2 separate regions of the Homo sapiens genome follow, and region 2 is linked to region 1. Evidence: fine-mapped expression QTL. A gene starts in region 1. The other region holds a variant in brackets. All regions are shown on one strand. Distances are between the middles of the regions.

Region 1 (5,509 bases):
AGGTAATTAATATTAACTGTTAGGCTTTTTTTTAAAAAAAAATTTACAGTAACAATTTGTGGCCAAACATCCTAAAAATAAAATCCAGGGTGTCCAGGGATCCAAGGCAGAATTACAAGAGTACCTAGTGAAAAATCTAAGTTACCAAGTATTTTCTACTGCTTTGAACTTTGACAAGTATCCTCAAGCTTCACCCCTAATTGGTATGTCACAGTAGTAGCAGCATGGCTATGTTCACTCGAGGTTGTTCAAGTGGCATGTTTTCAACTACCAGTACTTCAAAATCCATTATGTGTTAATACACGTCCCACAGTGCCTGTAGTGCTCAGCATACAGTAAGTTTTTTTTTTTTTTTTTTTTTTGAAACGGAGTCTCGCTCTGTCACCCAGGCTGGAGTGCAGTGTTGCGATCTCGGCTCACTGCAAGCTCCGCCTCCCGGGCTCACGCCATTCTCCTGCCTCAGCCTCTGAAGTAGCTGGGACTACAGGTGTCCGCCACCATGCCCGGAATATTTTTTTTTTGTATTTTTAGTAGAGACGGGGTTTCACCGTGTTAGCCAGGACGGTCTCCATCTCCTGACCTCGTGATCCACCCGCCTCGGCCTTCCAAAGTGCTGGGATTATAGGCGTGAGCCACCGCGCCCGGCCAACATACAGCAAGTTTTTGACTATTTTTTAAAGCATGCAAAATTACATGTTCCACTGCAACCATCATTGTGGGTTGAATTAACTGTATAGCAACACACTAAAGTGTTTTAATTTTCATGTCAAAAAAGAACTGCTATTCACTGCCTCACTTAAATGTAAGCTAGGGATAAAACCTCTTATATTAAATACTGTGTAACTGACACACACTGAGAGCTTATCTAATGATAGCTAGTAGCAATAAACACAAGACTTAGTATTGTTGTTTACTTTAAGCTAAAAATTTGGCAGAAACCAGAAGAAAAGAAGATGGCAAATCTAAACAAAGGCAAAGCCCTAAACTACCAGGATAGAAAAGTGACCTCAAGGCATTTATTTTATTTATTTATTTTTGAGACAGGGTCTCACTCTGTCATCCAGGCTGGAGTGCAGTGGCATGATCACGGCTCTCTGCAGCCTCGACCTCGCTAAAACGATCCTCCCAACTCAGCACCCCCAAGGCCCCCCTACCTGGGATTACAGGCGCGTGCCACCATGCCCAACGAATTTTTTTTTTATTTTTTGTAGAGATGGGGGTTTTCGCCATGTTGCCCATGCTGGTCTTGAAACTTGGGCTCAAGAGACCCTCCCACCGTGGCCTCCCAAAGTACTGGGATTACAGGCATGAGCTATCACGCGCAGGCAAGACATTTTAAAAGTAAATAATCCCTGTCTACTTCTATGATGCAAATCCCTCTTCAGGATGGCTCTGAATCTTCCGTATTGTTTACTCCAAAACAAACTTTTACTAGCATAAACAAATCTGGGGATGGGAGGGAGGAGTGATTAGTGGACAGTTACCTGTGCGGAAACTTGAGGATGAAATCAGTGAGCTGCATGCACTTGAAAGGCATGGCCTGTCTCCTCACTTGAGTGCAAGGTCCATCGACCAAAGCCTAGAACACAAACATCAAGAACTTCAGTGCAAAATCTAACAGCAATTAAAATGGTCAGATGGTTCTGTAACATTACTTATCCGTTCAGGGCCATCAAACCCACACTACTATTTTAATAAATTGCTCAGAAAAGACAAGGATTGTCCTATCTGGGTTATATATATGTATGTCTTTTGCTCAACACAAACATTTCTCCACATCATTAAATGCTCCTTCTTAAACTATATAGTACCCCATAGAAACCAACCACATGTAATTTACAGGCAACTTTAGGACTCTGATCCCTGCTGATTTATAGTCAGTGGTCAACTCCTTAGTTTGCTTGTTTCAAATACACAGCAGTAAATACAAAAGTGCTTTCTACGTGCTGGATCTGTTCTAAACTCACTTTACGTATAGTAACTCATTTAAAACTAACCAACGTTTCAGCCTATAACTGGCTCTAGCTTAAGTGGCTAATACTGAAATTCAATACTAATAGCTAACTTCAGGCTGTGCTTAAAACCCGTACCATTACCTGTTTCCTCAATGGTAAAATAAAGCGACTACCCATAGCATCCTCATCTTACACAGCCATCGAGACAATTCATTATTGCCATCTGCAGGGCACATGTCCACTGCCATGTTTAGTAAAAAGTTGTGACACTTACCCTGTTCTGATCAATAACATCTACAATCGCGACCAATTTTCCGGCATGAGGTCCAAAGGAGACATAGGCCACCCGGCCAACCTCCACGAAGCGCCTGAACACCTAAAATTGGAGGAGAAAGGACAGTGAAACTTACTTAGAAATACTCGCTACATATGTCACCTTCTGCAGCTAAAGACAACATGGTTAAATTCAGCGAAAAAGAATGCTGCAGGGAACAAACGCCCGAGAGCCAGGCGCCAACCTGGATGGACGAAATCAGCAAACGCCTCAGTAGCTTAAGCCCGGTTCCCAACGCCCGCCAGCTCCCAGGTCCGCAAGGCCCACACGGCAGGACAAGGCTCTCGGACCACGAGCCGCATCAGCCATCCAGCTCCAGCGGCGGAGGCGCGCACGCGTGGCCCAAGGCGCGCCAGGCCTGCCGGGCCCTCCACGCGCTCGCCAGCGGCGAGTCCGGGAAGGGCGCGAGTCCGGGAAGGGCCCGATTCCGCTGCACAGCCGGCCCGGGGACCCTCACCATGCGCTTCCCGGGACCCTCTGGGAGCCGTTTGGCGCCTCAGCTTCCCAGCGGAGGTGGAGGTCGAGCGGCATGGTCGACGGCCCCGGAGCCCGCAACAGTAAGACTCACCATGTTGGCGGCGTTAGGCGAGAAGGAAGAAGACCCGCCCAACCCTGCGCATGTGTAGAAGAACGCACCGCCCCTGCGGTAACGAGTCACCGACGTGAGCACCGATTGGTTGGTGCGTGCGTGCGTGCGTGCGTACGCACGCGCTCGCAAGCTCACTGGGAAAACATGGCGGAGTCGGCTGGCGTTAAGTTGCTTTTTGGCAAAGTTGGGCGGCGAGATTGTTTTTGGTGATTTGGATTAGAAAGCTGCAGGAGGGTCATCGCTTAGTAATTTAGGGTTAAGAGTACAGAAGCTATGTCTTCCGTTGGTCGCATGCCATTTGAGTTCCTTTTTATTTCCTCGAGTTTTATTTGTTGGTTATTCATGGCTAGGTCTGTTCGCTCCTCACGTTCTCTCCTAATCTCAGTAACTTTGTTAACCTTTCATTTTCAAGTAATTCACAGTTACAGAAATATTGCTAAACTAGTACAAATAATTCCCACAAACCCTTCTAGATTCCACAAATGTTAACGTTTTGCATGTGCTATATCATTTGAAAGGAAATTGCCGACATGATGTCCTTCTATCGCTACATTTTTTTTTTTTTAAAGACGGAGTCTCGGTCTGTTGCCCAGGTTGGAGTGCAGTGGCGGGGGCTTGGCTCACCGCAACCTCCGCCTCCCGGGTTCAAGTGATTCTCCAGCCTCAGCCTCCCAAGTAGCCGGGACTACAGGCGCGCGCCACCATGGCCGGCTAATTTTTTTGCATTTTTAGTAGAGACAGGGTTTCACTATGTTGGCCAGGCTGGTCTCGAACTCCTGACCTCGTGATCTGCCTCCCTCAGCTTCCTAAAGTGCTGGGATTACAGGCGTGAGCCGCCGTGCCTGGCGTTACATTCTTTTATAGAGACAGGGTCTCCCTCAGTCGCTCAGGCTGGAGTGCAGTGGCGCGATCATGGTTCCCTGCAGCCTCTAACTTCTGAGTGAAGACGATCCTCTCGTCTCGGCCTTCCAAAGTGTTGGGATTACCGGCGTGAGCCACCATGCCCAGCCTATCTATACGTTCTTAAAATGTGTATTTCCTAACAACAGAGAGATTCTCTTATGTCATCAGTACACTTATCAAAATCAGGAAATTGATATTGCAATAGTACTATTATCTAACCTTCAGTCCTTATTCAAATTTATAAGTTGTTGCTCCTATGTTCCTTGGAGCAAATGGGAAAAAAAATTGTTTTTCCAGGCTCTTGATCTAATGGAGGATTACAAATTGCAATTATTTATCAGGTCTCTAGTCTTTAACTGATAGTTTTAGATTTAACTGTTAAATTTGTAACATGGGTTTGTTGGAGTTTTCCTCATTGGATTCAGATAGTGAATTTTTGGTAGAAATGCTATGTCCTTGGTGCATCACATCAGAATACATTCTCTCTCTCTTCACTCTCTCTCTCTCTATATATATACGCACACACAAACACTTTTTTTTTTCTTTCTTTTTTTGAGATGGACTCTCCCTCTGTCACCCAGGCTGGAGTGCAGTGGTGCGATCTCGGCTCACTGCCACCTCTGCCTCCCAGGTTCAAGCAGTTCTCTGCCTCCCGGGTTCAAGCAGTTCTCTGCCTCATCCTCCCAAGTACCTGGGATTACAGGTGCCTGCCACCACGCCCGGCTAATTTTTGTGTTTTAAGTAGAGACAGGGTTTCACCATTTTGGCCAGGCTAGTCTTGAACTCCTGACCTTGTGATTCACTTGCCTCAGCCTCCCAGAAGTGCTAGGATTACAAACGTGAGCCACTGTGCTTGGCCACACACATATACATTTTTTCGAAGAGATGGGGTCTGGCTGTGTTGCCCAGGCTGGAGTGCAGTAGCTATTCACAGGTCTGATTGTAGCCTGCTACAGCCTTGAACTCATGGGCTCAAGCAGTTCTGCTTCAGCCTCCAGAATAGTTGGGACTACAGGAATACACCACCACACATGGGTTCCCAATATTGTGGTGGTATTTTATTCTTTAGATTTTTACCCAGGCCAGTGCAGAGAGGTGTTACCTTTTATCACTTGATTAAGGTGATGATCTTTGCCATGACAGTTCCCAGATGTATTTCAAGCCTTTCCTCTAAGCTCTATGCCAGCATATCTTCCCTGAGACTGCTCTAGCAGCCTCCTAAATTCTGTCTTTAATCTGTTCTCTGCTCAGCAGTTAGAGGGATCTTTTAAGTAAGTAAATCAGATCACATTATTTCCTGTTTTTAACAGTTCGATTGCTTTTCATAATATTTGGAATAAAATCTCAACTTCTTACTCTGGCCTTGTATCATATGCTTTAATACCCAGATACACCTTATGCCATCCCTCCTTCATTGTGTTGAAGCCACACTGGTCTTGAATGGGCCAAGCTCTCTCCTCCTCCATGACCTTTATACATGGTGTCTCTCTTGCCAGGAATGGTCTACCCATTGTTAATACTCATCGTGTAGCAGTGCCAACTTATCTCTTGTATTTTTTCCTAGATATTTTTCTGAGAGTTAACCAGGCTACCACATAAAAAAAGGTTAAGTCCCCACCCTTCTTTTTCTAGCTCACCTTGTTTCCCTCAGAGTTATCACAATTGCAATTGTTTGACTTGTTTTGCTGCCCACGTAGGTGTTGTTTCGTTCCAGTTAGAATAAGTTCC
Region 2 (5,240 bases), 90 kb after region 1:
GTTCATTCAATGCCTAGTTTTTATCATGAAGGGATACTTGATTTTATCAAAAGCTTTTTCTGTGTCTATTGAGATGATCATATGGTGATATGGTTTGGCTCTGTGTCCCCACTCAAATCATCTCGAATTTTAATCCCTACATGCACGAGGAGGGGCCTGGTGGGAGGTGATTGGATTATGGGGGCCGGTTTCCCTCATGCTGTTCTCATGATAGTGAGTGAGTTCTCACAAGATATGATGGTGTTAAAGTGTGGCACTTCTTCTCTTGCTTACTCTGTGTCTGCCGCTTCACCTTGGAAAGATGTGCCTTGCTTCCCCTTAGCCTTCTGCCATGATTGTAAGTTTCCTGAGGTCTCCCTAGCCATGCAGAACTGAGTCAATTAAACCTTTTTTCTTTATAAATTACCCAGTCTCAGGTAGTTCTGTACAGCAGTGTGAAACGGAACTAACATATATGCCTTTTGTTTTTAATTCTGTTTATGTCACATCTGTTGATTTGCATGTGTGGAGCCAAACTTGTATCCTAGGAGTGAAGCTTACTTGTTCATAGTGAATTAACTAACTTTTTGATATGCTGTTGAATTTGGTTTGCTAGTGTTTTGTTGTGGATTTTTGTGTCTATGTTCATCAGGGATATTGATCTGTAGTTTTTTTGTTTTTGTTTTTGTGTCTTTGCCCAGTTTTGATGTCAGGATGATGCTGGCTTCATAGTATGGGTTAGGGAGGAGTTCCTCCTTCTCAATTTTTTGAAATAATTTCAGTTGTATTGGTACCAGCTCTTCTTTGTATGTCTGTTAGAATTTGGCTGTGAATCCATTCGGTCTGGGGGTATTTTGTTTGATAGGTTTGTTTTAAATTACTGATTTGGTTTCAGAACTCAATATTGGTCTTTTCAGTGTTTCAGTTTCTTCCTGATTCAATCTTGGGAGATTGTATGTTTCCAGGAATTCATCCATGTCCTCTAGACTTCCTAGTTTCTTTGTGTAGAGATGTTCATAATAGTTTGTGAGGATCTTGTATGTTTCTGGGGAATCAATTGTAATGTTACCTTTGCTGTTTCTGATTGTGCTTATTTGAGCCTTTCCTTTTTTATGTAGCTAGTGTCTATCAATCTTGTTTATCCTTACAAAAAAACAACTCTTGGTTTTGTTGATTCTTAGTATAATTTTTTGGGTCTCAACTTTGTTCAGTTCAGCTCTGATTTTTGTTATTTCTTTTCTTCTCCTAGCTTTCGGGTTAATTTGTTCTTATTTTTCTAGTTCCTCTAGGTGTGATATTAGATTGTTAATTTGGGATCTTTCTAACTTTTTGAGGTAGGCATTTAGTGCTACAGGCTTTCCTCTTAACACTGCTTTTCCTGCGTCCCAGAGATTTTGATATGTTGTGTCTCTGTTTTCATTTATTTCAAGGATTTTTTAAAATTTCTGCCTTGATTTTGTTTACCCAAAAGTCATTTGGGAGCAGATTGTTTAATTTCCATGTAATTATGTGGTTTTGAGAAATCTTCTTGGTATTGATTTCTGTTTTTATTTCACTGTGGTCCAGTATGGTTGGTATGATTTTGATTTTTTTGAATTTATTAAAACTTGCTTTATGTCCAAGTGTGTGGTCAATCTTACGGTATGCTCCATGTGCAGATGAAAAGAATGTATATTCTGTGGTTGATGGGTGGGGTATTCTGTAGATATCCATTAGGTCCAATAAGTCAAGTGTTGAAATTAAGTCCAGAATTTCTTTGTTAGTTTTCTCCCTTGATGATCTGTCTAATGCTGTCAGTGAAGTGCTGAAGTCACTATTATTATGAAGTCACTATTATTATGTGCCTAAGTCTTTTCATAGATCTAGAAACACTTGTTTCATGAATCTAGCTACTCTAATGTGGGTGCATATATATTTAGTTAAGTCTTCTTGTTGAATTGAACCTTTTACCGTTATGTAATGCCCTTTTGTCCTTTTTTTTTTTTTTTTTACTGTTGTTGGTTTAAAGTCTGCTTTATCTGACATAAGAATAGCAACCCCCACTCTTTTTTGTTTTCTGTTTACATGGTAGATTTTTCTCCAACCTTTTACTTTGAGCCTATGGGTGTCATTATGTGTGAGATGAGTCTC[TTG/G]AAGATAGCAGATGGATAGGTCTTGTTTGTTTTTATCCAACTTGCCATTGTGTGCCTTTCAAGTAGGAGCAATTATGCCAGTTACATATTTCAAGGTTAATATCAATATATGGGTTTGATCCTATTGTGAAGTTGTTAGCTGGTTACTTTGTAGTTTTTATTGTGTGGTTGCTTTCTAGGGTCTGCAGGCTATATACTTATGTGTGTTCTCATGGTAGCAGGTGTTATTCTTTCGTTTCCACGTTTAGAACTCCCTTAAGGATCTCTTGGGCTGGTATAGTGGTAACAATCACTTGCCTTACCTTACCTTAGCATTTATTTGTCTGGAAAATTTTTTATTTCTCATCTGCTTATAAAGTTCAGTTTGGCAGGATATGAAATTCTTGGTTGGTGCCCGTTATTGAACACTGTATGAATGGGATTGCACAGTATGTGCTCTTGGTCTAGTGTAGATTCTTAGTCTAAGTTTACTGAGCATGTGCATGTTAGTGCAGGCTTGCATGCTGCTGAGTCTTGCTTGCACTTTTTGGTGACACATTGAATACAAAACCAGAAATAAACAGCCTGCACTGTGAATAGATGTGCTGAGTCATGAATGTTCTACAATCTCTAATTGCAAGGTTTCGGGTAAGGCAACATCTTGAGCCAGTTGGCTACATTTACATTTGTTTCACACACAAAAATTGGAAAGAAATGCCTTGGTAAACCTTGTTTGTTTAATAACTTCCATTCTTTAATCACATTAGATGCTCATTTGAAGGCAAAATAAATTCCATTAGGATAGCACTGGTTAGGTAGCTGCTTTATCCCATTTTTTCCAGCATGCAGGCTGTAGTGGGTATTGTAATCTCAAGCTTTTCAAGGAAGAAGGTTATCTCCTATTTCTCCTGTCTCTTTATGTACTCTTCTGCCTAGAAACACACCCAAAGGAAAATGAGAACTGCTCACTACTGGTCTCAAACTGGACAGAAGTTTTGCTTTTCCTCTTTCTTTTCTTTCCTCTTTCATTATTGTGACCATAAGTGTTGGTACAGGCAGAAAATATAAATGCTGCATGTTCCACAGGCTGTTTATCCTTCACATCTGAAAGGCAGTGTGATGAGGTGGCACAAGTTCAGGCATAGTCATTCACTAGTTGTGTGACTTGGGCAGGTGACTTACCCTTTCTGTGCCTCTATTTCCTCAGCTGTGGAATGAGGGTAGGAACAGTACCTACGTCATAGCATTGTTGTGAGGAGTAAATGAGCAACACATTTACATACTCATATAAAGCACCTAAAACAATGCCTGCATGTAATAACCTTTCAGTAAATATAATGCAAACTATTATAATTGTAGGAACAATGCTTAGGGCCTATGAGTTCTTCCTGCAAACATCTGAGACTTGAAAACATTTATTGACTTTAAAGTGTCAAAGGAAAACTTCAGAATGAAATAAACAAGTATTAAAATAAGCTTTATTGTGGAGATATTTACTACCTATGAATATTCCTGGGCTTTCCCACATTTTCCCGTCTCTTTGCCGTTAGGCAGGGCCTGTGGCTGGTTCTGGCCATTGGGTGTGACTGGAAGTGGCCTTTGTCACTTTTAGCATGAAACATTTAAAAGTCAATGCATGACTCTCCATCTTACTCCTTCCCAGTTGTGGAGACTGAAGAGGTCGTATGTACTCATTGGTGCAGCTACAAGACAGTGATGCCTTCTGAAGTCTGGGTTCCCAGTGACTACGTCTATGGAGCAGAGCCCTTCTAAACTATAATGAACATGTCGTGAGCCAGAAATAAACTTGTGTTATGTTAAGCTACTGGGATTTGGGGGACTGTTTGTTCCCTCAGTACAGTCTAGACTAACCTGACGTATTAACATAAGTGTCTACCTAACACAACATGCCAACCATTTAATTATACTCAACTCAATTCAACCTGACTCTTCCTTAGCTGGATATCAATTATATAGAATAAAGGCTTTACAAGGGTAAGGGTCTTAGTATTGTTCACTAATGTATGCCAAGTTCTTAGAACAGTGCCTGGGACAATATTATTTGTGATATGAGTGCATTTTAAAAGTTTTAATAATCTCAGCACTTTGGGAGGCCGAGGCGGGTGGATCACAAGGTCAGGAGATCGAGACCATCCTGGCTAACGCAGTGAAACCCTGTCTCTACTAAAAATACAAAAAAATTAGCCAGGCATGGTGGCGGGCTCCTGTAGTCCCAGCTACTGGGGAGGCTGAGGCAGGAGAATGGCGTGAACCCAGGAGGCAGAGCTTGCAGTGAGCCGAGATTGTGCGACTGCACTCCAGCCTGGGTGACAGAGCGAGACTCTGTCTCAAAAAAAAAAAAAAAAAGTTTTAATAAGACTCTGAGTGGGGCTTTCAAAAACCAGAATGTTGAAGATCTACAAAGGTCTTAAAATAGCTCAGATGGGTTTAGATACAGTCAGGACTGCTAGCTATGTTTCATGTTGATAAGAGAGAACTCCAATTTTTTAGGTCCATCCTATAGCCCAGCTGATGAAAAGAAGATAAAATTCAGAGATGGATGAAACACATTTCATCCTCAAGGCCTTTCTTGTGTTCTTTCATTTTTAAATTCCTCTGCTATTACTCTTTACGGAGAAGAGAACAGAGCAAAATGTATTCCTTTGAATAGTGTAATTTAAAAATTACTCCAGAGCAAAGTCAAAAGATGTGATATGTAGGCCGCTAGCCTACACTTCTAACTTAAGTTTTTAGTTTTAATTGTGAAGTATAATGTTGTTTTTAAATATAGAAATTTCAAGCTCTAGAACCATCACACTAAGATGACAATGGTAATTACACTGACAGCTGCAGATATTAGCATGAACTCAATACCAAAAATAAATCAGACCATGAATAATGGAAATAAAAGAAAACTGGCAGTTTTAAGAAATTCCAGAAATAGAGCAGAGAAAATGGAGGGAAGAAATTATCAAAGAAGTAGAATGAAAATTTCCAGAAGTGGAGAAAAGAAATGTCCAGATTAAAAGTGCTAAATAAAAACATGCCATTGTGAATTTTTAAAACAGTGATGATGGAGAGAAGAGAGAGAGAGAAAATTAGAGACAGGGAGAGGGCAGTGAGGAAGAGAAAGAGAAAGAGAAAAGGTAA

What was found. PIP is the estimated chance that this variant, and not a neighbour inherited with it, causes the effect. A credible set is the group of variants that fine-mapping cannot tell apart.
Region 2: its variant is the best candidate, but not a certain one, in a credible set for the expression of RPL14 in whole blood (TOPMed, PIP 0.57).

What each region holds. Positions count from the first base shown.
Region 1 is chr3:40,454,712-40,460,220 of GRCh38, reverse strand. It overlaps RPL14 (ribosomal protein L14), which reads right to left and starts at 2,882. Exons shown (of 6, transcript NM_001034996.3): 1 at 2,747-2,882; 2 at 2,230-2,331; 3 at 1,485-1,579. The coding sequence starts at 2,749. RefSeq lists silencers at 1,089-1,383, 2,597-2,646 and an enhancer at 2,789-3,083.
Region 2 is chr3:40,364,459-40,369,698 of GRCh38, reverse strand. No RefSeq gene overlaps it. Among named protein-coding and RNA genes, the nearest start is that of ENTPD3, 20 kb to the left of the region's middle. The variant TTG/G (reference allele first, on the strand shown) is at 2,110.